Linked DNA regions of Homo sapiens: regions 2 and 3 are each linked to region 1. Evidence: fine-mapped expression QTL. A gene starts in region 1. Each other region holds a variant in brackets. All regions are shown on one strand. Distances are between the middles of the regions. Region 1 holds the start of RMP64 (ribonuclease MRP subunit p64). Region 2 holds the start of CD200R1 (CD200 receptor 1). Region 3 overlaps CD200R1 (CD200 receptor 1).

Evidence for each region.
Region 2: its variant is fine-mapped to the expression of RMP64 in blood mononuclear cells (TOPMed, PIP 0.92).
Region 3: its variant is fine-mapped to the expression of RMP64 in whole blood (TOPMed, PIP above 0.99). The same link has a PIP of 0.9 or more in neutrophils.

Annotation. Positions count from the first base shown.
Region 1 is chr3:113,013,567-113,024,007 of GRCh38, forward strand. It overlaps RMP64 (ribonuclease MRP subunit p64), which reads right to left and starts at 6,105. Exons shown (of 9, transcript NM_015412.4): 1 at 5,976-6,105; 2 at 3,882-4,036; 3 at 387-466. The coding sequence starts at 6,081. It overlaps NEPRO-AS1 (NEPRO antisense RNA 1), which reads left to right and starts at 5,952. Exons shown (of 3, transcript NR_186663.1): 1 at 5,952-6,140. RefSeq lists an enhancer at 5,554-5,623 and a silencer at 5,784-5,893.
Region 2 is chr3:112,974,284-112,984,724 of GRCh38, forward strand. It overlaps CD200R1 (CD200 receptor 1), which reads right to left and starts at 820. Exons shown (of 8, transcript NM_138806.4): 1 at 508-820. The coding sequence starts at 574. The variant T/C (reference allele first, on the strand shown) is at 2,580.
Region 3 is chr3:112,961,305-112,971,745 of GRCh38, forward strand. The region is part of intron 1 of CD200R1 (CD200 receptor 1); the gene reads right to left. Among named protein-coding and RNA genes, the nearest start is that of CD200R1, 8.6 kb to the right of the region's middle. The variant G/A (reference allele first, on the strand shown) is at 6,720.

The DNA of each region.
Region 1 (10,441 bases):
CATGTCCTCCCTGGGCGACCCTTCACATTTTCAGCTATGTGCAAGCTCCCATTACTTTCATTTTTAAATATAAAGCATTTCTATAGCAGTTTTCAAGTGAAGACTTGCTTTAAGCTCAACTTGAGGTAGTTAAGCACAATAACAGCCCACTGATGTTTTAATATAATCTACCATGACCCAGATTTCAATGTCACACCAGTCACTCCCATAGATCAATGTCAGAAGATTACCACAAACACCAGGTACCCCACATTAAAACAAAATTTATACAGCTGAGGTATAATTGGTTATATTCCAACAGCAAGCATAGAGAAATCCAAAGGGAGATCACAAGACATTGAGTTCCCAGCCCACCACATCACAAAGCAACTGGACCACTTACTTACTTGGAAGAAAACAACTCAAACAGGTCTTGAATTGAGCCCTCCAAATTCATGTTTTTCAAACGCTTTAAACATTGCTCAACCTGAAAGAAGAAGAGCAGTTCAAATTCATGTGTATGTAATGCAGACAGGGTCACTGATTATGACCAGGAAAGCAAAGACTTCTAGATTTTCAAAGTATGGAAATATGCTAAATATCACAGAATACCTTATTTTTTTTCAGGGTAGAGAAATCCAAAGCGCAAGCAATTGCTTCTAGTTACAAATTTGGAATTTATCCAGCCAAACACATTTTTAAAATCAGGTGACTCCTAAGAAATTAGTATATGCCACAATGAGCTTGATGTCATAAAAGGGACCAAAACGAGTATAGGTTATTCTCAAGATTATAATTTTGCTAAGACAAGATTTTTTTTTTTTTTTTCAGATGGAGTCTCACTCTGTCGCCCAGGCTGCAGTGCAGTGGCGTGATCTCGGCTCACTGCAAGCTCCACCTCCTGGGTTCACACCATTCTCCTGCCTCAGCCTTCCAAGCAGCTGGGACTACAGGCACCCGCCACCACGCCAGGCTAATTTTTTGTATTTTTAGTAGAGACGGGGTTTCACCGTGTTTGCCAGGATGGTCTCGATCTGGACCTTGTGATCCGCCCACCTCGGCCTCCCAAAGTGCTGGGATTACAGGCATGAGCCACCGCGCCTGGCCGACAACATGATTTTTAATAGTGAAACTATTAAAACAAGATAGAAAATTATTAACTACTAAATTTCAACAGTCTATAAAGTACCACAGAGATGAGGAAAACGATTGGCTTTAATCACTGAACAAATATATTCTTTGATTAGATGAAGCTTGTTCTTATGTTCCTCTGCATCTTCTCTCTTTCTCCCTTCTCTCTCTTGGGTTTTTTTTCTCTTTTGAACCGCAGTTCACTTACTATGTTTTCCAAGTGCTTTACCATCTGGGTTTGTCAATACCTCCCTCAAAGGATGGTGTCCAGACTTGAAAACTGAAAAAGATAGGAGCTGACCCTAAAGAATTTAAGGATTGTTCCCTCCATTATTCTTGAAAACCGCTGTTAAAACAGAATCCATAACCTTGGTTCAATTTCTAGAAGTATATTTGCAGCTCTGGCAAGATACTCTTGTTGCCAGTATCAATGCCCATCCAAATTTTTGTATCTGTCTAGATGCAGTCCCATGCTGCCCTTTGTGTGTTATTCCTGAGGACTACAGAATTCCTACAGCATTTTGTACCATGCATGGCTCTTACTTTTTTTAAAAAAAATTAAAAATCCTATTGAGTGCTTACTGAACACTGTTCTAAGAACTGGATTATGGTGGTAAACAAAAGGGACAAAATACATTGCCCTTGTGGAGCTTACATTATAGCTGGGAGAGAAAGGCAGTCAATCAATGGCAGGTGGTGTTAAGTGCTATGAAGACAAATAAGGCAGAGAGGGAGTGCTGAGAAGATTGCAATTTTAAATAGGGTCTGTTTTTATTTTAGCATTTAATTAAATATTTTACATGTCTTCCTATTTTTACTACTAGATTTTTAGCAACTAGAGATAGGGAAGTTTCTAATACCACTTTATCTGCCAGCATGCCCTACATGTACTCCACAGAACAGGAATCAAAACTACTTTCTGTGTTCCATTTAGGGGAATGTTTAGAGACAGGCCAATTCTAGTACTTACATGAAAGTTCTCTGAAAACTGTGAAATATTAAGCAGTTGTAAGGCAGTAGTAGAAGTGGTAATAGCAGCTGCAGCAGTAACATAAGCATAAAACATGTTTCCTACTTCAGGGATCACATGGAATATAAAATATATACACAAATAACTTTACCATGACACAGACTATATTAAATGCTATAAGTACAAAGAGGAGGCCCAAATAGCCAAGAATTTAAAAAAAAAAAAAAAAAAGCAACTTCAGTAATAATCAGAAAAATACAACTTAAAATGAGATTACTATAACACAGATTATCACTGCCAGAAAGGCTTAAAATGGGACTTAGAGGATAGGAAGGCCTTTAACAGGCAGACATGGTGAGGCTGGGCATTCTAAACATACAGGACCAGGTAAGCAGACTCAGAAGCAGGAACAAACATAGTGAGCATGCAGGTGTGTTGAGTCCAGGTTGGCTGGAATATAATCTATCTGAACGCAAGAGAGAAGCCCGAACTAAGAAGACTGAAGAGGCCAGATCACAGATCTCGTAAGCCAAACTAAGAAGTTTGGTCTTTACTCAGGACACAATGGAGAACGACTAAAAATCAAAGTTGTGTTTTCAGATGATTAACCTGGTTTTAATATTTAGAATATGCCAGAACTTAGGAAAAGCTGAAGGAGGAAACATCAGTTATGATAGTAAGACAACTAAAAGTTGACAAGGTCTAAGAAAGGAAAATGGCAGCCAGAACTGAAGAGGGGACCAGATGCAGAGGAAGTTTTGTCTTATGGACTGCCTGGATGGGAGAGCTACGTAAGAGAGAGAGACTAGAGAATGCCAAATTTTGATGACGGGGTGATTATTCACAACCCAGAAGCTAGAAGGAGAAATATATTCACTTTGAGGGTTAGCAAGCTTGCTTTTGGATCAAAAAGACTCCGAAAAAGATAAAAGCCACCCTAGAATGGAAAATTTAGGGAAAGACCATGGTCCCAGATCTTTCTTTGATGAAATCTTCACCCTGTTTGCTTTAAGTACTAGGGGTAGAAAACTAACCAGAAAGCATGCATCTATAAGGTTAGAGACTGTGTCTACCTTTTTCACTCCTCTATACACAGCACTAAGCAGAATGCCTGGCACACAGAAAGTTCAAAAACACTTGCAAGGTAGCCCTGTCACACAATGGATAGCCTTCTGAACTTCCAGAAAATACTTGCAGAATTAAGTGAATGAATGAATGAGCATATCAGGAAGCCAGCTTAAGAGAGGCTCTACTCTATGGTATAGCCCCTGAGCTGGAGGGCCCAATTTTGTCTTAAGCTCCAAACATTACATGAAACCAGTTTACACCACAACTTGCTATGTACCCATTTACTCTAACATACCACCAATTAGATTATGTACCCCATAATAAGTAGACAAGTTTTTTTAAAAATAATTTTAGCATTCTGATTATGCCCAGGGAACTGTTTCTTAATGTCCAACATTTTGTCTTGCTCAAATCACTTTATCTTTGAGCTGGGCAAAGGCACTGTTGTTATAGATTGTATATAATGAAGAAAATGTTTACTTGCCTATTAGAAACAAGACTGGGAAAGAATCTAAACATACTTCTTTTCTAACAAAAATTACTTTTTGAAATGCTGAAATGCTTTTAGGAAAAAAAAAGAAAGTGCACATGTAACTGTGGGCTATAGGCCTATAAAACACAAGTAATTTACTGAGATTTCCACGAGATTTCCATAAATAGCAATATAGTAAGTGGCAGTGTGATCTACATTTTCAAGTGAACAGGTTGGGTCTCACCTACCGGGCTTCCTCACCTGTTTGAGGGCCAAATGGGGTTTGTGGCGGCCCATTCTGTTGTGATTGCTGTAAAGGACTGCACATAACACATCTGTTTCTGCATCTAAGGTTTGGCTCTTCAGCGACAGTATGACGAGATGGCATTCTTTAATTACAGCTGCAATGCAAAGGTCTGAAGCAGAGACATCTAATAAGATTTAGTATGTATTTCTACAGTAAGTATATTATATTAAAAACACACTAAAAAAAGCATCTTTCCTTATTTGTTTTAAAGGAATCAAAAACTAATGTAATCAGTCTCAACTGTAAGAACGTAAGGATTCTAAGTATAAGAGAAGTTGGAAAATGGTAACAGATGATATAAAGTCCAGGAAATCATTAAGAGAACATCTGTAAAACAAGAAGCTGTATCTTTGCATTGCATTTTATCATGGTTTAATAATCTTTCATATGAATACTTTGCTGTCAGTCATTTGGTGTACACTTACGCCTCATGTGTACACTTAACCCCCACCTTGAAGGTAGGGCACATGTCACAACATGTGTAATAACTCTCTAACTCCCCATGTCGCTATGCCCGAAAGCAAGACAGAATGAATAAATTCACAGTCTTCAAAATCAAGGCTTCTGTGTTTGGATATCACTTTATGAGAGACACAAACATATTCAGAAAAGAAAAACCACCACAGTAACTGGAAATCGTATTATTTGATGAACACCGGGTGCTCATCAGCAGATGCTTCCTAGTCTGAAAATCTGTAGAAGTCCCTAAGATGTAGTTCATGTGTTATTTATGGCTCTAAAGGCAGCACTAGCATTCTAAATGGAAGTAAAGGCTGGTTGCTACCTAACAAGAATTTTCTTACTGTCCCAACAACTACCTGAAGACAGAATGGGCTGCCTCGGGGATGGGTAGTGAGTTGGTGAATTTCCCAGGCCTAATAGGAGTTGTTAAAGAATTTTTGAATAGAGAAAGAGGGAAGATTAATCTGTAAAGTGTGTAGGAAGGATAGATGGGATAATCTGTAAAGTGTGTAGGATGGATATATGGGAAAGGGGATGTGATGATCTAAGTCAAGCTTGTCCAACCCGCCTTATTTTGTTGTTCTGTTCTGTTTTGTTTTAGGCTTTTTGCAGCTTAAAGCCATGGTTTTTAGTTTGTCTCTAGTGAAAAGAGGGATGAGGAAAGGGCTTTACCAGCCCAACCGGAAACAAAGAACCCATGACTGTATTCTCTCCCTTGGGCCCCGGAGCTACGTATTTAATATTCATAACAGCTTCCATTTGAGTGTTCATTTACCATGCCAGGCAGTGTTCCAAATGCTTTCTCTACATTATCAACTCTTTCATCCCCCCAAACAGCCCTATGAGGAAGGTGCTTTTATCTCCATTTGAAAGTGAGATCAGTGAGGCACAGAAAGGTTCAATGACTCCTTCAAGCTCCAGCAAAGGGTAGAGCTAGTATTCAAACCCAAACAACCTGGCTCCTGCGCCAGGCTCCTACCTACTATATGCCCTTCACCCTAACAAATACCACCCATTTAGGTGGCAAAACACCGTCGTTTACAGCGCACTGTCTCCTAAATTACATCATTAGATATTCCCAACGCCCCTGTGAGGAGTAGGAGGACTAACTCCATTTCACAGATAAGCAGATAGAGGTCCGAAAAGATTGCAGTTTGAGTCCCAGTGCTTAGGTGACGTCCACCGCTCCTCGGGTACAGGAAAAAGAAGGAAAGGGGAAATGGACGGAAGGGTAAACAAGACTCCGAAGACCCGGGTGAGCAAGGGTTCCCAGGCAGCACTGTTCCCCGGCACCAGCTGAGTCCACCTCTCTCCGCCCCCTCAGCGCACGGCTGAGCCTTGGTCTTTCATCTCTCCAGCCAAGCCCTGGGTTAGCACAGCTGGTTCAATGAAGGAATGCGAAGCCAGAGGCCCTACAAGCTACACCAGCAAAGTGCTGGGACCGCTCGACCCCTACGTGCCCCGCGCCCCTTCCCAGCGTCCCCCGGGCCGGGAAGTCCCGGTACCACCCCCGCCCACATGCGCCGGCTGGGCCTGGCGGCCTCCCCCGGAAACGTTCCCCCATCCTCGCCCGGCGCCTCACTCACCAAGGGCCGCGCCGGGGTTCTGCACTGTCACTGCGCTGCGGTTCCCCGCCTTAGGGATTCTCACACGGTTCCACGGCTCCAGGCCCGGCGGCACCGCAGCCATCATGCGAGGCGGGGGGACTTACGAAAGGCGGAGCTACGCGAGAGCACGTCCAGCGACCGGAGGTGGGGCGATGGGACCCAGTCCGGGCCGGAAGGGAGCAGGGGGTGGGGCTCGGGCGGGGCCAGGAGCCCGGCGGGAGGCTGCCTTCATCGAGTAAACGCGTGGGACTGGGAAGGACCCAGTCATCTGTATATTGGTTACCAACACGTGGCCGCGTAGAATCATGGGGGAAAAAAGGCCCCATCCCAATACTAACCAACAGAATCTCTGAGAATGCGATGAGGAATCTGCGTTTTGTTTAAACTTAGCGCAGGGGATTCGGAAGCACAACCAAGTTTGGAACTGTTAAATACTTCTAGGCATTTTACAAATATGGAAAATGAGGCCCAGAATTGAGTTGGTGCTTTTACCCCCAACTCTGCCTCAGACATTAGGGGAAAAAGGAAGAAATGAAATGAAGAGGTTTGTGCAAGGTGTGGAATTTGTAGCGAAGAAGCAGTGATTTGCTTTGAGTGGTAAAGGAAGGCTCCTTTATGTCTTGAACCACAGCAAAACCGAGATCACATCAAAGAAACTTGGAAGACACCTGTCAGTCATTCCCACTTTTGTCAGTCTCCAAGACAAGATCATATTCCAAGCTCTAGTGATCCTTACCTCATTAATATCTTTCTAATAATTCATTTATCCTCAGCCATGCTAATGCCCCCTTAAGTTCTTAACACTCCCACAGTAACGTATTAGAAAAACAGTGAGTTTTGGAAACAGACTGCCAAGGTTCTAGTTCTAGCTTTGCTGTTTACTAGCTCGGTGATCTCAGGAAATTTACTTACCTCCTCCTCCAGACCTTAGTATCCCTGTGGGTAAAATGAAGATGATAATAATAGTATCAATCTCACAGACTTGTAAAATGCCAAGGCACTCCTGGCATACAAACAATGAACATTTACCATAGTTAATATTGTTGATGTTATTACTACTATTTCATGCAAGCAGTCTTACTTTATTGAAACACTTTCCATGCTCTTTCTGTGCGCCTTTACACATCTACCTACTCTACCTGGGTCATCCTCGGAAACACAATCTCCTTTCCTCAGCTCTGGGGTCGTCACTTGGGGTAATTCTTCCTAAACACCCCGTCCTCACTCCATAACTTGATACAGAGGCCCCTTTAATGTGTTACCACAGTGCCCTATGTTGGCCTATGTATTAGTTTTCTATTGCTGCTGTAACCAATTACGACAAACCTAATGGCTTGAAATAAGTAGAAGTTATTTTACATTTCTGGAGGTCAGAAGTCCAAAATTAATTTCAATGGACTGAAGTTGGCAGGGCTGGTTCCTTCCGGAATCTCTAGGGAAGAATTCATTTCCTTTCCTTTTCCAGCTTCTAGAGGCTGCCTTCATTCCTTGGCTCATTTCACTATCCTCCACCTTCATTGTCAGCATGACATTTTTCAGTCTCCTCCTCTTCCTCTGTCTCTCTCACCCTCCTGCCTGCCTCCCTCTTAAAAACACCCTTGTGATTACATTGAGCCCATCAAGATAATCAGGATAGTCACTCCATCTCAGAATCTTTAACTTAATCACATCTGTTTTAGAACTCCAAATTCAGGCTCATGTACCCGATGGGCAGCTGATGCCAAATATTGAGATACTGGTGCTTGGAGACAGAGAAATATTTATTCGATTTGACCAAAGTTAGAGGGCAAGAGAGCAAGATCTCTCAGATCCACAGTAACAAAAAAGAAGCAGGGAGTTTTTATGGAGCTAGAGAGTAATGGAGAGGGAGTTTCAAGGAATCCAAGGGAAAAGTCTGTGTTTCTTCCATTTCAGGTAACACCTTGTGCAGCCGTATGTACATGGCAGCTGGTTGCAATGTCCTTCCAGGAATTCATTCCTTCTGCAAACTATTCTTATGACCCTGAAGTTATCTCCTTCTGCTTGACAAAGAAACAGTACATCAGCAGTTTATAATTACATTGTGGGAACAAGGAATACTGGGCAAAAAGCGAGTGGTTAACATGTACAAGCAAGCAAGGGCCTGTTCAAAATTTTCATTATTTCATGCACACACACACACACACACACACACAAAAATGCTGGGGTGCTGAAATCTCAAGCAGCTGAAATCTCAAGGTTATATAGCTACAAAATCCCTTCTCAGTGCAAGGTAACATATTTACAGATTATGGAAATTAGCATGTGAACATCTTTGGGTGGGAGGTGGAGGGATCTTTATTCAGCCTACCACAGCCTCTCTCACAGAATTTACCTCGCTTTATTGTATTTCTTTGTTTACTTTCATGTCTATTTCTCCAATGGCATATGAACCTACTGAAAGCGAGAACTACCATTGACATAGCTAACTGGTCTTTCTATCTCAATGCTTAGTTCAGAGCCTGGCATATAGTAGGGCCTCAGTAGATATTTACTGGCTGTATATGAGGTTGGATGATGCTTGAATAGAGTCTTTTGAAGGATGAATAGGAACTCCCCAGGCAGTTAAAGGAAAAAGGATATTCCTACAGAGAGGTTTTAAGCAGCATGGGTTTGAAGAATCACTAGTCCTGAGTTGGTACTGCTGGGACGTGATTTGTGCTGAGGGGTGGAGCTGGGAATAGTGGTGTCAGTCAGATCATGGGAAGAATTTGGCTTTTTACCTGAAGACCAGTAGTTCAGAAACCTGGCTGATTATCAAAATTGCCTGGATAACTTAAAAATAGAGATTTTCAGGTCCCACTTGAAAATTCTTACTCATTAGTTCTGAGTAGGTCTGTTTTGAAAAGGTCTTTGTGATGGTACTCTAGGTTGACGTGTCCTTGCTATAGGTGATAAAGGAGTCACTCACTGAGTCTTAGGCAGAGCAATTTTTGTCAGCTTGCCTCAGAAGAAGAGCACCCTGGAGAACAGATTTGGGAGAGAAGAGGTTGGAAGTAAGGAGACCAGGCCCATCTGTTCTATTACAAAAGCTAAGGCCAGAAATGATGCAGACCCAAACCTTCAAGCATTTCTACTGGATATAGACAGTATGACTTATTTAGATGTCTAGCATGGGTGGAGAGTGTCCCTTATCTGAAATGCTTGGGACCAAAATTGTTTCAGATTTCCGGTTTTTTTTAGATTTTGGAATACTTGCAAATATACATGAGATATCTTGGGTATGGGACCCAAGTATAAACATGAAATGTATGTATGTTTCATATCTACCTTAAACACATGGCCTGAAGAAACTTTTATGTAATATTTTTAATAATTTTGTGCATGAAACAAAGTTTGTGTACATCTCAATCACCCATGTGGACAGTCTGTGGTTGTTTGGTGTCAACATCATTCCTGACTCTGAATTTATATGCTACTGTTTTTTTGTTTGTTTGTTTGTTTGTTTGTTTGTTTTTTGAGATAGAGTCTCACTCTGTTGCCCAGGCTGGAGTGCAGTGGCACGATCCCGGCTCACTGCAAGCTCCACCTCACAAGATCACACTATTCTCCTGTCTCAGCCTCCCGAGTAGCTGGGACTACAGGTGCCCACCACCATGTCTGGCTAATGTTTTTTTGTATTTTTAGTAGAGACGGGGTTTCACTGTGTTAGCCAGGATAGTCTCGATCTGCTGACCTTGTGATCTGCCCGCCTTGGCCTCCCAAAGTGCTGGGATTACAGGTGTGAGCCACCGCACCCAGCCTATATGCTGCTGTTAAGCAACCATTTTTTTCTCTTATTCACACATATGTGCTTAATAGTAAAAAAAATGATATACCATTAATACAGTGAAAATTAATGTGTTCAGGGTAACTTGTATCATCATGTCAGTACTCAAAAAGTTTGGCATTTTGGAGCACTTCAGATTTTGGATTTTCAGTTTAAAGATGCTCAACCTATTTACATATTTACATGTCTAGAATGATGATATGGTTTGGGTCTGTGTCCCTACCCAAATCTCATGTTGAATTATAACCCCCAATGTTGGAGGAGGGGCCTTGTGGGATGCAATTGGATAGTAGGGGCAGAAATCTCCCTTGCTGTTCTCATGATAGTGAGTTCTCAGGACATCTGGTTGTTTAAAAGTGTGTAGCACCTCCCTCTTTGCTCGCTTGCTCTCCTTCTCTGGCCATGTAAGATGTGCCTGCTTCCCCTTCACCTTCCTCCATGATTGTAAGTTTCCTGAGGCTTCCCCAGTTGTGCTTCCTGTACAGCCTGCAGAATTGTGAGTCAATTAAACTTCTTTTATTTATAAATTACCCAATCTCAGGTAGTTCTTTATAATAATGTGAGAATGGACTAATACAAATGACTTCCAGATTTTCACCTTAAGTTCGAAATATGACATTCAGAAGAAAAATAGATTTAGGGAGGTGGCAAGGGTGAT
Region 2 (10,441 bases), 39 kb before region 1:
AAAATTAGCCAAGCATAGTGGCGCATATCTGTAGTCCTAGACACTCAGGAGGCTGAGTGGGAGGACTGCTTGAGACCTGGAGTTACAGGCTGCAGTGAGCTACGATTGCACCACTGCACTCCAGCCTGGGCAACAGAGCAAGACCCTGTCTCAAAAAAGGGGGTTGGGGAAGAGAATAAGATAAAGAGAACCTAACTGACTTTGATTGCTGCTAGTATGTATTTGATTTATCCTGCCTTGTTCAAAAAACAGGAGGAAATAAGGAAATGGACAGTAAGACAAATTATAGAGATCTGTATATTGTAGTAGGATACAAAGTACAACAAGCAAGACACCGGAAAAAAGGATAATAAAGTAAACTAGATATGGGAGTAACCCATATTTAGCAACCCCCTATATTTATTATTGCAATTGATTTGTATTGCCCCAGAAGAAAGACAAAAAATAAACTCAGGAAGAGCTGAGACCAGGTTTCTCACTGTTCTCCCAAAGAGAATTCAAACTTACCGGCCACTAAGAAGATAGTCAAAATCAACAGTAGCCCTAGGTTAGCAGTTCTCCAAGGGCAGAGCATTTCTGTTTTCTCTTTTTCTGCCCTTCACTCAGTACTTTTCCTCCACACAGGTACAGAAGGAACTGTGCGCATGGTGAGACCCTCTCTGGTCAACTTCTCAGTACAGGATCCTCTTACCCCATCAACAGTGGGGCACTCCCTTCCTTCTAGCCCCTTCCTTCACGTCTATGTGGTTTAGCCTGGTTAGTAACTTGGACGAACAGAAGCTTTTCTCTGGAACTTGACACAGCAATAGATTTCCTGTATGAAGCCCTGAAGCAAAGACGGAGGAAGCAGATTGATTGAATTATCTCTCAGCTCATTGGTTCTCCTCTCACTTCTGCTGTACACAGACAAACTTTACAGTAAGGCATTGAACGTGTCCAAGATAAACAGATTTGTCTAAACTTGCACCAAAAAGTAAAACAGAATATTGATCTACTTTGGCCCATCCTTGTAAATTTCCCAATTATGATGACTTTTAGAGGCTTTCTCCAGGTTGAAGAGCTTTACGGCCTTAGTATTTGAGTCTGGAATACAATATGTTTTCTTGAAAATTATTGTGTGAAATTCCTGTCTATAATGGGAGTCAACACACAACCCTGTAAACATCATATGTGTATTAGTTTCCTATTGCTACTGTAAGAAATTACCACAAACTCAGTGGCTTAACACAACACAACATTTATTATCTTACAGTTCTGGTGATCAGAAGTCTGAAATGGATCTTAGGGGACTAAAATCAAGGTGTTGGAAGGGCTGCACTCCATCTGGAGGCTCGGGCAGAATTTGCTCCCTGCCTTTTCCAGCGATTTGAGAATGCCTGCATTTCTTGGCTTGCAGCTACATCATTCGGACCTCTGGTCCACTGTCACATCTTCTCTGACTGTGACCCTTATGCCTCCCTTTTATAAAGACCTTGTGATTATTTTTGGTCCACCCAAATAATCCAACATGATCTAATTTCAAGATCTTAATTTAATCACATCTGCAAAGTCCTTTTTGCCACACAAGGTAACATTCACAGGTTTCGGTAATTCGGACATAGGTATCTACCTTGTTGGGGGTGAGGGCATTCTGTTTATCAGAACTCAGTACTTATTGCCATTCAGTTTCACCTTTGGAAAATTAGACTGATCATTTTAACCAAATTACAAATAATCACCCATCTCTTAGTTGCCACACATCTGGAATTCAGACTCCCCCTAACCAAAAAAAAAAAACAACAACAACAACAAAAAAACCTCTTCCTTACTGTTGCTAGTTACTATGTTACTATGCTTTTAAGTTATGTCTGAGAGAGGGAAAAATCTTCTATGTGCTGAGAATTTTCTGCCCCAAGGCAAAACTGTACAGGAAGGGGAAGAAAACATTGCAAACAGGAAAAAGATTAAACAGCATGCATTTTTTTTCTCAGTTAGCAGTTTCATCTTCCTTCTTGCCAAACATTATAAATATTTCCCCCCTTCCCCTTCTCAAGCTTTTTTTTCCAGTTAATTAATTTGATGAAGACAGTGAAACCAGATCCTTGAGGGCATGGAACACTTAAGGGTATGAGCTGTGACAATGGGAAGACCAAAACAAAAATGTCTTCTCTTCTGTCTAATGTTTCACCAGGTGTCGGAAAATTAGTGAGAATACATCATTTAAAATACAGATAATATTCTGGTTTTCCACTACATAGAAGTGAAAGTTGGCCGGGAGTAGTGGCTCATGTCTGTAATCTTAGGACACTGGGAGGCCGAGGCGGGCAGATTGCCTGAGCTCAGGAGTTCGAGACCAGCCTGGGCAACATGACAAAACTCCAAACTCCATCTCTACTTAAAAAAAAAAAAAAAAATTAGCCAGGTGTGATGGCACTCATCTGTAGTCCCAGCTACTTGGGAGGCTGAGGCATGAGAATCGCTTGAACCCAGGAGGCAGAGGTTGCAGTGAGCAGAGAGAAGTTAAAGTTAAAATTCACACTCGCTTAGGATACAGATAGACATAGGGTTAAGTCTCTGTTGTGCAATTACTAGTCCAGTGA[T/C]ACTGGGAAAGTTTCTTACTCAAGTCTGTATCTGTTTATATTATATTGACATTAGCTTTTTCTCATGTCATCAAAAATTCTTGGAGATCATTTATTTTAATATCTGCTCAATGACATAGCCAAAACTAAACCACAGAAGGGCTAAATGGCCTGTGGCCTCAAAACAACTTATTGGCACGGCTGGGAATAAAATGTGTTATATTTCGTAGCCCTGTGTTCTTTTCACTCAACTCCTCTACTTTGAAATTTCAGGCAACAACTTTCATAGACACACTCCAATGCACTCACCTGAGGTCAGACCACAATCTGCAATCAGCAGTTTAAGAATCAAGTGATGGGTATCAAAAACCATAAAATTCACTAAATAGATTTGGCAGGATGACAGTTTCTCTCCCTGGTCCCTCATCCTCTCCACCCCCAAATCACATGCCTGTAACCTCTCAACTCCCACCTTCTACCTTTTATGGACCATGAATGTTTAAAACAATAAAGGGACTAAAAGTTTGTTAACATAATCATCCACTAAAGACATGCCATGAAAGTCAGTATAATAAGAGAAAGATGTGTCTGGTAAATACACCTCTCTAAAAAATCTAAAGGCCCCAAATTCTCCCTGGTTGCGGCCCTTGGGCACAGGACCCAGGAAGCAAAGCAAAAGAGTGAAAAAGGATCAAGAAACAGGTGTCATTCAAACCAGAAACCCAAACCTTTTACTCTACCAGTTTTCCAATTCTCCTTCAATAATACCAGTTAAGAATCATAGCATAAGAGAAACAAACAGGACAATGTAATGCCAGTTAATGTTGTAGCCAAAACAAAAAGACAGAGAAACTTTAGTAAATTAGAACTACTTTAGGCCATAATGCCCCCAAACCAGCATGGCTGGTTTACTCAATTTATCAATTGCAATAAACTGAAAATTGATGTAATAACTATAAATGTTGTTGAAGTAAACTTCTTCCAATCAGGTGTATATCTTTCTCTCCAATGTCAGATTCAGACTTAGCCACACTGAAACCATTTAAGATGAAGTGTTGCAGCCTTCCTCTTGGGATTCCTCCCCATTATGTAGAAGATTTGCATGGCTCTTGAATACTTACTGCAAAGATTCTATGGACTTTTATTCCTGACTTCTCGTTCCCGGGACCCTTTGCTCCCCAGTACCATTGCCGACTCATTCACCTCTTATATTTGAGTCTTGACTGCCGAGAACTTCAGCACCTGCCTGCCCTTCCTACCATAGCTGAATTTTCTGGATGTGCATTCTTGCAAAATGGGCCAATAACTACTTGCCTTGTCACTGTTACTTTTGGTGAACTCTCTGGCTTAGATATCTGGCCTGACTTACCCTTCTATACACTTGCATGTGTGCACACACAAACATAACACACACACACACGCTCACACAAATATGCTAGCGAAACACTTAGTCCTAATTCCCTCAATCTACTCTGTCCTACTGCTAGCCAAGTGGTAACATGCCAATTTCACAGAGGTAAAAAGAACAATACCGAATAGTCTAAAGAATTTCAAGGGACTCAAACTCTACAGCACTCCACTCTTGTCTTTACTTCCTCTCTGCTCCCTTGTACAATAACTACAGATCTGAATCTAATGAATTACCACAGAAATGCTATAATTCAACATACAGTTGCATAAAAAGACTGCTTTCCTGGGCATATTCCATTTTCTATTTTCCAATTTACCTCTCTGTAACCTTCATTGACCCATGCTCTCAAGACTCATCTGAAATCCTGTATCTTCCTCCATGGACAATCATTAAATAGACTAAACAGTAACTTAAAAGAGCCTCAAAAAATGCATACTTCTATTTTTATACCTACTATTATATTGATTTTTCTTGAAAATTTTTACTCCTAATATATGGTTGATCTACGTCAATGTATAAAAAGTCTTCTTAAAAAGTTAGAAAAAATATATCATATTGGAATTAATGATTATTTTTTATTATAATTTTACAGATTATACAAAAAGGAAAATTGAGAAATAGATGTTTGAAAATCAAATGTGTGCAGTATCAAAATAAGCAAAATCAGAGTAGAGAAATTAGTAATCACATTTTATATTTAGCTAAATATCAACTGTAAATCTCACTGGTCAGATCCATAGCAAGTATTTGTCAAGCCCTAAGCTTAACACCCTGATCTTGTTCTAAGCAGTTTATAAATATTACCTAATTTAATTATCTCAACAATCCTATATAGTAAATACCACTTACCATTGAGGAAACTCAAAGCAGAGAGGTTATGTAAATTGTCAAAAGCCACACAGCTGATAAGTGATAGAAACAGGATTCAAGCCCAAGAAATCTCACTCCAAAGTCTACTTCTTAAACTATGTGGCTAATTAGTCTCTGCTTTACTATCTACTTTTTTGAAGGTGGTAACTCTGTTTTGTCTCCAATACATCTCCCAGGTTCCTAACCCCTACTGACTCTATTTATGTACTAATTCACTCTTTCTTCCTTACCTGCTCAAAATTGGTCTGTTTTGTTTAAATAAATAAGCAAACCCTGTGCTGTTTCTAATCATCTATTTGCATTAAGATTACTCTCTGCTGCCCCCTGGAGATAATTTGGTGAAATCAATGCTAAGATTTTTGTAAATTTATCTAGCAAATTCAAAAATAGCTTCACATTAAGATTTTGATCACAAAGTATGCTAACATGCCTAAATGTTATACATTTAATTTACATCTTTTGGAAACTGCTGCAACATAACAAATGACTACCTGATGGATAGTACAGATATTATACCTTGAAGAAATGTTGCTGAAAAAAACAAAAATGAATCTTTTGAGTTGCCAGGATGGTTTAATAAAACAACAGTGCTGCCAGGCATGGTGGCTCATGCCTGTAATCCCAACATTTTGGGAAGCTGAGGCAGGAGGATCACTTGAGCTCAGGAGTTTGAGACGAGCCTGGGCAACATAGTGAGAGCCCATCTCTATAAAATTTAAAAATTGTTTTAAAAGCAGCAGTGTAAAGAAATGGATAAATGGATGGATGGATGGATGGATGGATGGATGGATGGATGGATGGATAGAAGATAGATTCCCTATCTCATTGCATGAAAATTTGCAAAGATTGCCACCTTTGGGTACCCTGGAATGCAAACTCCAAGACGGAGTTTAATGTGAAGAATTGTTATTATATTAAGGAGTAACCTCAGATCATCACTTGGGGATAAGAAGGAACAGAAACTGATGTGGGTATAGGGAATCACACTATATGGTAGGCCCACACCAGAATCAGCTAGCCCTATGGGGAGCTATAGAGCTGAAACTGCCCCTTAGAGTTGTCCTCTGTTGTCCTGAAATGGGCAGATCTTTACACTTCTGCATCTATGAGTCATTTGTTATAGCCACGGGAAAGACCATGACCTTGGGTAAGGAAATCCATGAAGAGGCCAATCCCTGAACTGTGGAAAACACTGTCAACACTGGAGCAACAAAGTCCTTCAATGAAGGGGGTTGATGGTACCCCACAGTGTTTGTCTGCCAATTGAATAAATGTTGGAAAATAATCCACTCTAAATCTAGTCTCAAATGCAATGATATTCCACTCAGCCAATTGTCTTTCATTCCCAAGAAACCAAATTAATGGAAAATCTTGTCAAAAATATAACCTTGAAGTAGCTCTGCATTAAGATATTTTCTCCCTGAGGCAGTCAGGTAATTTTCATCTGTAAGTGTCAACTGAGAAATCCAGAAGATATGGAAATAAATTTTTTAAAGGAAAAGCCCAATCATATACCTTGGCTAAAAACTAACATCAAGGCAAAGCATGCTGAAGAGAGACAAGTATCATCTGATCTCCAGAACACCCTAATATTAAAGTCAAGAAGAGCAGAACATTTTAAAAAGAAATAGTCTAGACTGAGCCAAGTGGGTTTACCTTAAATGTCTCAGACAATATTAATTGATAAGCAAATTAGTTCTATATAACTTTCTAACAAAAGAATATGAATCATGAAAATTATGTCAGTCATAGAAGCTTATATTTGCCTGAAATTTTATTCAAATTTTATTGGGCCTTTCTCAAAGAAATGATAAATGTTCTGTTGATCCATCACAGTTTTATTTTATCAATGGCTTATTTTGTCCCCAAATTTGACCATCCTGTCTATCTTTTATAAGATAATGTAATGTTTTCAGTGAATAACTGAAAAATAGTTTAAGTTGGCTAAACTCTAATTAGTTACAGTTGGAGTTTAAGAATGTCACAATTTTTTATCTAATTTTGAGAGGAGCTGTTAAGGTTATGGCTCCTAAGTTGAACTTCTGGGTTCAAATTTCAGTTCAGCCTCTTAGTTTTGGGTTACTGTGTTGTTTTTTTTTCTGTTCTCAGATGCTATTTGATTTTTTCGAATCTGCTAACATTTTTGTAACTTTAGTTTTCCACCAAAACTTTTAGTCCTTTGTCTCCTGAAACATAAAAATAATATTTTAAAGTCTCTGTCTGATCATTCCAATATTTGAAGTAATGGTGGGTAAATCTCTATTGGTTCTTTCTGTGATGTTTGGTCTCCTCATGTGCCAGGTATTGTGTTTTCTTTCTCAAATTGCAGAAAAACTGGAAATTATTTGAGGCCCTGCAAAATTTTGTCTTCCTCTGGAGATTTTCATTTGCTTCTGCCAGGAGTCCATAAACAGTAGCAATCAGGAGTCACCTTAATCCAGTTTTAAGGACTAGAATTTTCTGTGCAATCAGATGACTCAAAGGTAGGTTGCAGTCTATGTGCTATGGCTTGAATGTGTCCTCCATATTTCATGTTGGAAATTAATCCTCAAACTTATATGTTGATTGGAGGTACAGCATTCGAAAGGTAAGCAGGATTAGATAAGGTCATCAGGTTGGGACTCCAACGATGGGACTGGTGGCTTTCTAATAAGAGGAAGAGAGACCTGAGCTGACATGCACACTCTTCCTCTCTAACCATGTGATACCCTTAACCATGTTATGATGAGCAAGAAGGCCCTTACCAGATGCCAGCCCCTCAAACTTGGACTCTCCAGCCTCTAGAACTGTGTAGGAGATAAATTTCTTTTATAAATTACCCATTCTGTGGTATTATGTTATAGTAACACAAAACAGCCTAAGACACTATATAAGGGGTGATTTTATCGTCCACTCCATCCTATCCCAAACCACTCTTTCTCATTTCAAGAGGCTACAAAAGGTACTGCTCACCTTTCAACTAGCTCTTCTATATCAATCAGTAAACATCTCAAGGGTAAATGTAGTTCCAATGCCAGTTTCATCAATCTGTATTTCTTTCTTTTTCTGAATCTTGGTGAGGTAATTCTTCATTACCTTGCTAGGTCACTGATCTGCCATCCAGTAGACTTTTAAAATGATTATGTCTAGATTTTCTAGTTGGCTTGAGAGGGAAGATTGATCTAAATTTCTTAGTCTGTATCACCTGATGTAAAAGTCCAATTCCTTGATTCTTTGCTTTTCCTCATCTATCAGCAAGTCTTTTTGGTCTCTACTTTAAAATGTTTCCTGAATTTGACCATTTCACATCATCTCCACTCTACTGGATTAGAAAAAGAAGGATGCAGTTACAGCTTCAAAAGCATGGTTTTTAAAACTAAAATACTGTATCATTTAACTTGCGGGCAGCAGCAAAAAGGTAAACAGATACCAGAAGCCACAGAACACTTGTGTTTCGTGACTGCTTCCATTTTACCACAACTTTCTGAAATGCATTTTATTAAAGTCGTTTTTATTTTGGTCACTTGTAGCATTGATTATGTTGTTGAAACATAAAAGCTCAGATATTCCATACAGGAAATTTAAGAATTTTAAAAGTCTGAAGGCCTATATTAAGACTTTTTTCTTAAAATCATTTATGCTCCATTGACAACTAAGTTATGCTTTTATGACTATTTTCCTACTAGTGATCTTTCTTTCTTATATGCTTTCTTTTTACTTACTAATATACTACCAATAACTTGGAGTGATTTAATGTGATTTCAAAATGTGTGTAGGGGAATTTTCTAAAGAATACTGTTATGATTATCTCACCTTGGGAAAAGAAGAAGTAGGAAATATGAAACTGCTGAAAACGTTTGAATGTTGAATGTTCTGTATTGAGAAAAGGAAGTAGATAAGATCTTTTTTGATTTAATATTTCTATCTTTTACTTGGCTAAATATGATAAAGCAATGAAACCTGTAAGAAGTAGTGCTCTGCTTCCTAGTCAAAGTATCTTTAATTCTGGAAATTTTCAGCAAATTTCCTCCTTTTACTTCATTTTTTTCAAGTACTCCTATAATATTGTTTGGTTTGCTTTTGTTTTGTGTTGTTTTGTTTTTTGAGACAGAGTTTTGCTCTCTCACCCAGGCTGGAGTGCAGTGGTGTAATCTCAGCTCACTGCAATCTCTGCCACTCAGGCTCAAGAAATTCTCATGCCTCAGCCTCCCAAGTAGTTGGGATTGTGGGCGTGCACCACCATACCTGGCTAATTTTTTGCATTTACAGTAGAGAAAGGGGTTTCATCATGTTAGCCAGGCTGGTCTCCTACTCCTGGCCTCAAATCGATCTGCCCACCTCGGCCTCCCAAAGTGCTGGGATTACAGGACCAAGCCACCATGCCCAACTCTTACAATACTGTTATTTAAATTTCTTCTTTTCACCTTCGCAGCTCTTAACTTTTAAATTCTTTATATTTTTTATCCCTTCCTAATATTTATTGAAATATTCTCCAATCTAATTATCCTGCTATTTTGTTCTTTGAGTTGATAATATTATTCAACTATTAAACACATCCATTGAGAAATTTACTTCACAATAATATAATTCATATCTAATATGTTCAACTGGTACTTCTTAGAAGCTTCCTGTTTCATGTTTGCCATATATTCCCTTATCTCTGAGGATATTTTCTGTTTTTATTTAAATTCTTTGCCCACCAAGTCCATTCATTCTGATTACTTCTAGAATGAATTATCTTTTTCTTACTTTTTCTTCTATTGCTTGTGGGTTCATAATGTGAGTTCGTGAGATTATACTATTATGGTAAAATCAGCTATCTTTTAAAAAAAATCAGCTATCTTGGTAAATAACAGATACCTAGAGAGAGGAGTGAAAGGCTAGGTTCTGACTTGCACTAGTCTAGGCAGAAGAGAGATATATCACAGCATTCTGGGCTCAACCACTCGTGCGCCTGCCACCCATGAGATCCTGCCTATTAGGTAACCACCTAGTACCACTACACCAGGCATTATTCCTTTCTAGAGAGTAATCACAAAACATTGTTTGAATCTGATTGTCCAGCCCCTAGAGGAGGATGGGTAAGGAGGTTGGAGGGAATGTTCAAGGACATTGCTGCACTCAACTCCAGCTAAACCTGATGTTCATACCAGTTGAATCACCAATTCATTGCACTCCTCTCCAGAGGCCCCATACTTTATTACAGGTGGCTGAGACAGCAGCTTTGATTATAACCTCCTTCCACAGGAAGAATTCTAGTTTTGCCATGTCCTATTAAAATGACTAGAGAAAGTCTGTCCCACTTTTCTCAAAAATCTCCAGAGAAATCACTTGTATTTAGAGCAGAACCTGGAATACATCTTTCCTACAAGTATACAATCTCACAATAAGTGCAGGTGAGAAACTTCTCATTTTTAAATGTTTTTATCTTTTAATCTATGTGCAGAAAACAGTTCATATAGCAGGCCTGTGGCTGCTACCCTTAGAAAGATTTGTTTACAAGATTGGCACTGGGCTGACATTTGAGAACTTGACTGGTAAACAGTTTCCTTGCATGGCACAGAGCCAACTTTCCATTCATGAGTGGCTCACTGTATCTAAACTATTTGAACAAACAAGTGGT
Region 3 (10,441 bases), 52 kb before region 1:
TTATAAGAACTAGCTAGCCATGTGGGAAAATAAAACAAAATCAGATTCTTATTTCACTTCTCATACCAAAATAAAATAAATAAAAGATTTAAATATAAGAAACAAAAACAAAAGTACTGGAAGAAAATATAAGTAATTTTGTTGTTTTTGTTTTTTTTAATCTTAAGAGACAGCCTGACTAACATCGTTGTTTGCCAGACTGAGAGGTTTCCTGGGATGCAGGACATTCCATGCTAAAACTAGGAAAAAAGTTCCAGGCAAACTGATGCAGTTTTTCACCTTCAATTAAGAAATCTTTCTAATCCTGATATAAAACATGGAAACCATAAAGAAAAATATTGAGAAGTCTGACTCTAGAGAGAATTTGAAACTTCTGTATGACAAAAAAGAAAAAGAAAAATACATAAAACAATGTTGCCAAGCAAAAACCTGGGGAATGTTTGCAACATTTAAAACAAAGAAAGATTAATTTTCTTCAAAAAATATGCTGAAAACACATGAACCAATAAAAAAAGAGATGGACAACTCAACTGAAAAAATGGGCAAAGGTATGAACAGGCTGACAAAAGATTAAATATGTTAAAGGTGACACAGTAATTATAATTCTACTCTTTAGGTACAACATAGGGATAAAAATAAAACATACAGATGGGTTATAAAAAGAAAGGTGAGAAGTGTTTAGAAAAGTAGGAAGTTTCAAAACAACAATTCAATAATGAATTTGATGGAAGGACAAAATTTAGAAAGCAGTAAGTATTATGCTAATAAATTTGGCCCTACTTTTTAAGGCAATATAAAGTCTGTGGCAGTTATTAGGGTGTATTGCTAATAAAAGCCATCTTACTGGCCTGTTTTGTTTTTTGGGTTTTAATTTTTGGTTTTGGGAGTATTTTTTTGAGGCAATTACTGTCACAAACTCCAAAACTACTTAATGAAGACAAACATGTTCCCTAACCTAAGGCAGATGTTGTGTAAATGTGTATCACTGATCACAAAGGACAATACATTCAATGGATATGTAGACACTGAATACATATGCATATTAACATATGCAAAGATATGTGTACCAGGATACTAATTCTAGCATTGTTTTCCAAAAAATCTGACACAGTTTTGAAACTGTAATTTAAAAAAACTGAAAACAACCAAAAAGCTGGTCTGTAGGGGGCTAATTAAATGTTATCAAATAATATACAAGAAGAGCTTTGAAAACCACAAAATATCATTAAATTGTCATTTTTGAATGCTTATAAATGAAGATGCAGCACTAAGTACTTTACCTGCATCATTGGGCTTAATCCTTATTGCCACCCCAGACACTAGGTCAGGGATTATAGGTAAAATGTCCAAATTTTATTATTAATTGGCAGCTAACTTTTTAAAAAAAATTACATGTATCAGCTAAAGTGTCTGCAAGCCAGATATAACCCATGAGCTGCCAAATTGCAGTCTCTGATGTTAGAGAAAAGGCCAAAACTAGAGCCTTGAAAACATTTATAATTAGAGATCTCTTGGAGGCATTGCACTTTACAAAAACAGTGAAGAAAAGTAGGATATAAATGCAATGCCACAAAGCCAAGTGATATGGTTTGGCTGTGTCCCCACCCAAATCTCATCTTGAATTCCCATGTGTTGTGGGAGGGACCTAGTAGGAGGCACTTGAATCATGGGGGCAGGTCTTTCCCATGCTGTTCTCATGATAGTGATTAAGTCTCACAAGATCTGACGGTTTTAAAAACAGGAGTTTCCTGCACAAGCTCTCTTCTCTTGTCTGCTGCCATGTAAGATGTGCCTTTCACCTTCCACCATTATTGTGAGGCCTTCCCAGTCACATAGAACTCTAAGTCCATTAAAACTCTTTCTTTTGTAAATTGCCCAGTCTCAAGTATGTCTTTATCAGAAGTGTGAAAACAGACTAATACAGCAAATTGGTACCAGAAGAGTGGGGCACTGCTGAAAAGATACCCAAAAATGTTGAACTGACTTTGGAGGGTAGCAGGTAGAGGTTGGAACAGTTTGGAGGGCTCAGAAGAAGAAAGGAAAATGTGGGAAAGTTAGGAACATCCTAGAGACTTGTTGAATGGCTTTGGCCAAAATGCTGATAATGATACGGACAATGAAATCCAGGCTTAGGTGGTCTCAGATGGGGATGAGGATCTTGTTGGGAACTGGAGCAAAGGTGACTCTTGTTATGTTTTAACAAAGATACTGCCAGCATTTTGCTCCTGCCCTAGAGATGTGTGGAACTTTGAACTTGAGAGAGATGATTTAGGGTATCTGGTAGAAGAAATTTCTAAGCAGCAAAGTATTCAAGATGCGACTTGGGTGCTGTTAAAGGCATTCAGTTTTATAAGTGAAGCAGAGCACAAAAGTTGATAAAATTTGCAGCCTGACAGTGTCATAGAAAAAAAAAATCCCACTTTCTGAGGAGAAATTCAAGCCAGCTGCAGAAATTTGCCTAGGTAACAAGGAGCTGAATGTTAATCCCCAAGACAAGGTGGAAAATGTCTCCAGGGCATGTCAGAGGCCTTCACAGCAGCCCCTCCCATCACAGGCCTGGAGGGTTAGGAGAAAAAAATGGTTTTGTGGGCCAGGTCAGGAGTCCATATGCTGTGTGCAGCCTAGGGACTTGGTTCCCTGTGTGCCAGCTGCTCCAGCCATGGCTGAAAGGGGCCAACATACAGCTCAGGCCATGGCTTCAGAGGGTGCAAGCCTCAAGCTGTGGCAGCTTCCATGTGGTGTTGAGCCTGCCAGTGCATGGAAGTCAAGAATGGGGGTTTGGGAACCTCTGCCTAGATTTCAGAGGATGTACAGTAATACCTGGATGTCCAGGCAGAAGTTTGCTGCAGGGGCAGGACTCTCATGGAGAACCTCTGCTAGGGCAGTATGGAATGGAAATGTGGGGTTGGAGCCCCCACACAGAGTCCCTACTGAGGCACTGCCTAGTGGAGCTGTGAGAAGAGGGCCACCATACTCCAGACCCCAGAATGGTAGATCCATTGACAACTTGCACTCTGCCCCTGTAAAGGTCACAGACACTCAATGCCAGCTCATGAAAGCAGCCAGGAGGGTGGCTGTACCCTGCAAAGCCACAGGGGCAGAGCTACCCAAGACCATGGGGACCCTCCTCTTGCATCAGCATGACCTGGATGTGAGACATGGAATCAAAGGAGGTCATTTTGGAGCTTTAAGATTTGACTGCCCTGCTGGATTTTGGACTTGCATGGGGCCTGTAGCCCCTTTGTTTTGACCAATTTCTCCCATTTGGAATGACTGTATTTCACAATGCCTGTACCCCCATTGTATCTAGGAAGTAACTAACTTGCTTTTGATTTTACAGGCTCATAGGCAGAAGAGACTTGCCTTGTCTCTGATGTGACTTTAAACTGTGGACTTTTGAGTTAATGCTGAAATGAATCAAGACTTTGGGGAACTGTTGGGAAGGGATGATTGGTCTTGAAATGTGAGGACATGAGATTTGGGAGGGTCCAGGGGCAGAATGATATGGTTTGGCTGTGTCCACATCCAAATCTCATCTTAAATTCCCACGTGTTGTGGGAGGTATTTGAACCATGGGGGCAGGTCTTTCCCATGCTGTTCTTGTGATAGTGAATAAATCTCATGAGATCTGATGGTTTTAAAAATGGGAGTTTCCCTGCACAAGCTCTCTTCTCTTGTCTGCAGCCATGTGAGATGTGCCTTTCACCTTCTACCATTATTATAAGACCTTCCCAGCCATGTGGAACTGTAAGTCCATTAAACCTCTTTCTTTTGTAAATTGCCCAGTTTCAGGTATGTCTTTATCAGCAGTGTGAAAATGGACTATTATACCAAGTAAAGAGGAGGTTTCAAGACAGGAAGAATCAAGATTAAATCATATGCAGAACAGTCTTAACCTAAGAATTAAGAAGCTTTGTGATTTGGTAACAAGAAGATCATCAGTGACCTTAAGATCTGAAAGAGAGTAAGTTTAACAAAGAAGTACAAGTGGAAACCAGATTGAAAGGGGCTGATCAGAGGTAATGGAGTCAACAAATGTAGACTTAAGTCTTTCAAGAATGCTGACCTTGAAAGAATGGGAGAAATGAGACTGGTTTCATCCTTTCATGTTAAACTTGAAAGAGAGAGAGATGGGGCAACATCAGGAGCTATGAGGGATCAAGAAGATATTTAACAGGCCAGGCATGGTGGCTCATGCCTGTAATCCCAGCACTCTGGGATGCCGAGGCAGGTGGATCACGAGGTCAACAGATGGAGACCATCCTGGACAACATGATGAAACTCCGTCTCTACTAAAAATACAAAAATTAGCTGGGCACAGTGGCGCACGCCTGTAGTCCCAGCTCCTCGGGAGGCTAAGGCAGGAGAATTGCTTGAACCCAGGAGGCAGAGGTTGCAGTTAGCCGAGATCGCACCACTGCACTCGAGCCTGGCGACAGAGTGAGACTCCATCTCAAAAGAAAAAAAAAAGATATTTAATAATAAAGGGGAACACAGCATGTTTGTAGACAGAAAGAGGGAGAGCCAGAAGTTACTAGAATGAGGAAGCTAACTGGTCAGGCAGGATCCCAGAGGTACTAGAAGGAATGAGACAAAAAGCAGGTTTGCTTTTAAAGAGATTGATATTTCATCTCTGAGAGGCGAACAAAAAGGTTAAGAATTATTACAGACACAAGAAACATTTTGAGGAAGCAGGTTAACAAACACTTGTTAGTACCTACTTAGTGGCAAGTAGCTCGGCAGAGCTCAGGGAATGGCAGCTTGAATGAGGCAAGGTTCCTGCTCTCAGAAACCTTACCATCTGTGGACATTAAAGAAGTCCACACTGGACAATGGTAAATCAGGAGGTGAGCAGCTGTCTGCAAAGGAAATGAGGATAGTTGGGGTGATGAGGAAACTAGGAAAGACCTAGAGCAGTGTTCTGAACCCTGGCACCCATCAGAAAACCCTGAAAAGACTTGTGAAAGTCTAGATCCCTATACACTGGAAAAGTCTGATTAAGCAGGCTTAAGCTCTATAGGCAATTTTAGGCTCTATAGGGAGTTCTGTCTGGCAACTACCTTAAAATCACTGGTTTAGAACCATCCCTGGGGAACAACTAGGGAAGAGCCAATTAAAGATAAGTAGGATAATTTTGTGAAGAATAAAAATAGCTAGATTTTATTATTGGGGATCTGTAAACATTTACCATTTGGACATTTTTTTCAAGGAATTATCAGCACCACAAAATGAATCATATAACCAGATATTCTCATATTATGTAATGGATAAACCTTTAGGAAAAGGTAGCATTCATGGTAAGGTAACAAAATGGCAGAGAAAAAGAAAAGAAATTACTGAACACCTTAAAACTACATAAACACATACTGGTTGGAAAAATATTTCTTCCAAATCACTGAATTTTCTCAAATAATATCCTTTGAACACATTCAGGTTTCCCCTATGTTGGTAGAAAAAAAAAAACTTTATTAGATGCTTACTTCCCCTTCTAGCTAGGATCCCTTCTCCTTTCTTTGCTGCCTAACTTCTTGAATGAGTGGTCTGTGCCCACAGCCTCAATTTCCTTCCCACTCACTCCCTCCTCAATACCAGCAATCTCGCTGCTCCCACGTCTATCTACTCAAACTGCAATTTTCAAGGTCACCAGCCCTTTTATAGTCAAGCTTTTGGCCTCTTTTCAGTGCTGGTGTTCCTAAGTTGTTGATGGATTTTAACACAATTAACCACTTTCTTCTCCTTCTAAAACCCCTTTCCTAGCCTTCCCACTACACCCATGCATTCCCTTCTCTGTCTCTTTCCCTATCTTCACTGCCTCCTCTCATATATTTTCTACAAGCTATCTTTCTCCTTGGGCATCGTAATGTCAGTATTCACCAAAGTCTCAGCTGCTTTTTCTCTTTACACTTTCTCTCCTCTTGCTCCTTAACCCCTTGAACTTCAACTAGATCTCTATACAGGTGATTTCCTCTTGTTTTCACCACTCCAGTCATAGTTTAGCTCCCTCTGTCCTTCATTAAGCCTGTTTGACCTGCCTGGAATGTTTATCCCTCAACTCTTCTTACCTCGCTGTTTCTGTTCATCTTCATCTTAAACATCACTTCCTTGGAGGAGCCTAACTTGATCCTCAAACCAGATTAGACTCACCAGTTACACATTTCTATGTCACCCTATATTTATCCTTATGCACTTGCGCATTGTTTAATTATTTGCAGTAATTGATTTAATATCTATCTTTCCCACCAGATTTAAATTCCATGAGAGCAGGACCTATGTCTGTCTTGATCAAATGTCCACAGCATGAAGCACAGTGACTGATACATGACAGACACTCTAAATTACTGGCTGACAGAATAACCCACCCACATTTTTGCTTTGACTTATTTTTCCTAAGCAAGAATCTCAAACATTTAGCTGAAATTTGTCCCCACTTGAATACTTGCTGTCATTTCAAGTGTATCACATCTAAAAGACATAGATTTTTCTCCCACACACTTGCCCCATCCCTTTCCCCTCTAATTTTTGTACTATGAAGGTGTTCAAAACTCAGCTCACACCCCAGAAAGCTGTTTGATATGATTAGCAATCCCACATACACACTTGGGCTTTATTTGCCCCATGTATAAAATGAAAGATTTTTAATTTGAAGGTTCCTAAAGTACTTCCTTTGTGAAGGCTTTATACTTCTTAATAGTGTCATACATCTTCATTTCACAAATGAG[G/A]AAATTACTGTCAAAAGAAGTTAAGCAATTTCTAAAGATGAAACAGCTAGTGGTTAGAATTACATAACTGATCTTTAGACCCAACACAGAGTTATATTTGTATTTAGAAATTGGTATCTATTGGTATCTAAATTAGTGTCTAGAAATTTTACTAGAAATTATGGGAAAGAAGAACGAAATTTTACTGAGAAAAGTGAAATGTACCAAAACATTCAATGCATGGGTAACATTTAGAAAGCAAAAAAGCATAATAATATATTCAATCTTAACATCCAAGACAATATAACCACTAAGTCAATATTAGTTGTAAAAATACAATAATATTTTAAAATATGTATATTTGAAGAAAGTTTCACTTCTTTATGGGCCAGTGAGTTTCCACAGGTAAGAACTATAAATTGTGGACAAAATATAAAAACAACTACCTGAGGTTACTGGAAAGTGGAGGAAGCAGAAAAATTCTTGAAGGGTGTCAATGCTTGGAAGAAGGAAATAGGGGATCAGAGTTGTGGGTGTAGGTTCCCATTATTTCCCCATTTTTACCGATGTTAGTCCCAGAGAGGGCTGCAGATGATACCACATTAGGCAGCTACTCTAATGGAAAGCCCACAGTTTTCTGAAGAACCAGCAGGCAGATTTTAGGGCAACTTTACTCTCTGAAAAGTGACAGAGTCAGAGTAAAAGAGTTCCAAATTCTGCATACACTCTACCCATATCTCTGATGACTCTAAACCACACATTGCAGGTCACAGTCAAAGCAGATTAGCTACCAGTAAAAGAACTCAGATTTGAGATGCTGTCCAAGGGGTAGAGTTTGCAGTTTGGGTCCAACCAAGTAAAATATCAACACAGCAATATAACAGAATCTGTGCAACATTCAAAACCCAAATAAAACTATTTAATTTACAAAGAACCAAGAAAATGTGGCCTATGCTTAGGAGAAAATACATTAAGGGAGACTAACAACTTCAAGTTGACCCAGACACTCGCATTCTCAGACAAGAGTCTTACAGCAACATTCAGCTATGCTTAGTGACATAAAGAAATATATACTCACAATGAATGAATAAAAACACAGAAAAATCTCAGCAGAGAAAAAAAACTTTTAACAAATAAATGGAAATCTTAAAATTGAAAAATACAATATCTAAAATAATATATTAACTAGGGCTTTACAGAAGAATGAAGAGGAGAAAGGAAATTGTAATTGTCAGTGAACTTGAATATATAGCAATAGAAATTATTCAATCAAAAGAACAGAGAGACAAGATATTGGGGAAAATATGTATAAAAAGGGAACTAAGAACTAAGAGAACTCCTCACTAGCAGACCTACACTACTAGAAACAATAACAGAAATTATTCAGGATGAAAGAAAATAATACCAGGTAGAAACTTGGAAATTCAAGAAGGAATTAAGAGTATTAGAAATGACAACTAGAGTGGACATAGTATGTGCCACCAACAGTTGCCTCTGACTTTTTGTTCCTGCCACTAGGATCACTGTCAACAGACAGTCTTCAGTTTTCAGCCTCTCCAGGGATGACTTCAGTTACTTAGACCAAAGTCAGACCCTTTCCAGGGGAGCCCATATCCAACGACTGATTTAGATGGAGTTATAAAGGAACAGCCATTTTTATTCAATGCAGGGCCTCTCTAAGGCCAATCTAGCTCCTGAGCTCCCTGTGGGGTCAGTGAGGGTGTCAGTTGGTTGAGATTGCAGGTAGACTTCTCCCTCTGCTCACAAGCATACTGTACACAAAACTCTATCTCAGAGTCTAACTTCCAAGAGAACCTGCAACAGCAACAATAACTCAAAGTAACAGACATTTTTGAAGAAAATTATTTCTTCAAAAGTGGAAAAACTGGCCAGGTACAGTGACTCACGCCTGTAATTCCAACACTTTGGGAGGCCAAGGCAGGAGGATTGCTTGAACCCAGGAGTTCAAGACCAGCCTGGGCAACATGGGAAAACCCTGTCTCTACAAAAAATACAAAAAAAAAAATTAGCCTGGCGTGGTGGTGCACACCTGTAGTCCCAGCTACTTGGGAGTCTGAAACAGGAGGATAACCTGAGACTGGGAGGTCAAGGCTGCAGTAAGCCATGATTGCACCACTGCACTCCAGCCTGAGTGATAGATAGAGTAAGACCCTGTCTCAAAAAAGAAATAGAAAAACTTTTAGCCCTGCTTTAATCCTGGAACTTTTTGGTATTGCTTTCCTTAAAGATTTTGGTCCTAGAATGGGGTCTAGGCATATAAATTCTATGTAGAAAAACTCTGAAGTTGTTGCTTAGTGTTAATGCATGAACAATATCATTTCTTCCTGGGGGGAAAAAGGGCTGATTGTGACTGTGTCTATTATATGAATTATATAAATCAGTGATATTTATTACCATTATTATTATTTAAAAAGTAATGATTGTTGACTTGATTCTTAGGGCCTACTAGCATCACATAGTCCAAAGGTATTTTATAACCACAGATCTGCTCCCAAATCCCAGTCAGCAATTGACAAATGTATGTGAGTGATAATAAGGCAGAAGAGGTAAAAACATGTTGATGGCTACTACATTTTTCAGACACAAATGGTTTTTCAGACACAAATGGTTAATTTTTCAGACACAACATAAAATCAAACAACAACTGGGTCATTTTATTAACTAAATGCCATTAACTGAAATATTCATGACCTTATTGGGAGGAAATTTATCTACGGTAAACTCTCTCATTTGTTCCCATTACCTTATTGCCATCCTCAAGCTACTAGCATCCCTCTATCTAATGTCTCATCTTAATCCTCAATTTCAGAAGAGTATCTCCTCCTACATGAGGTTAAGCACTCAATTGATACTCCACTTTGGCTCCCTTCCTGTCTCTTCTCAGATCTTCCTATCTTTTATAGACTGGAAAGAGATAAGTATGGTTCTTAGAGCCCAAATCCAAATATCTCTAGTGCTTATTCTATTGTTTTTGTCCATATGTTTATTCTGTTCGTGGGATGGATCATCTACTTCATGAATGATTCACAAACACTAGAGTTTTCTATACAGTCATCCCTCAGTGTCCTTGGGGGATTAGTTCTAGACCCCCAGAGATGGCAAAATTCAAGGATGCTCAAATCCCTAATATAAAATGGTGTAGTATTTCATATAACCTATGTACAATCTCTCACATACTTTCAATCATCTCTAGATTGCTATAAAACCTAATACAATGTAAATAATACATAAGTAGCTATTATATTGAATTATTTAGGAAATGACAAGAACAAAATCTGTACATGTTCAGTACTAATGAAATCATCTATTTTTTCCCTTTATATTTTCAACTGAAGTTGGTTGAATCCAGGGATGCAATACAGAGGGCTGACTGTATTTCCAAGTATCTGTAGGAATTTTCCTCCTACTTGTCCTCCCTTCCTATACTGAATTTAATATCTTCCTCCACAACGAAACTCCCTTCTCAGTCACATATATACCTCAGCGGCATCACAGAACTTTTTTCAAATGAGAACCCCAGGGCAGAAGCTCTTGACTCATGTTTCAAAATAAATATTTTACCTAGTGCCACCGCCACTCAATGGGACACTGTTACCACATTATTCTCCAAAAAATCCTACTTAATTATAAATTTTCCTGTTCACCAAAGAACAGGTGGTTCCTCATTGTCTACTGACTAATACCCAGGTTCTTTAATTTAGCTATTAAGGACCCCCAAAATC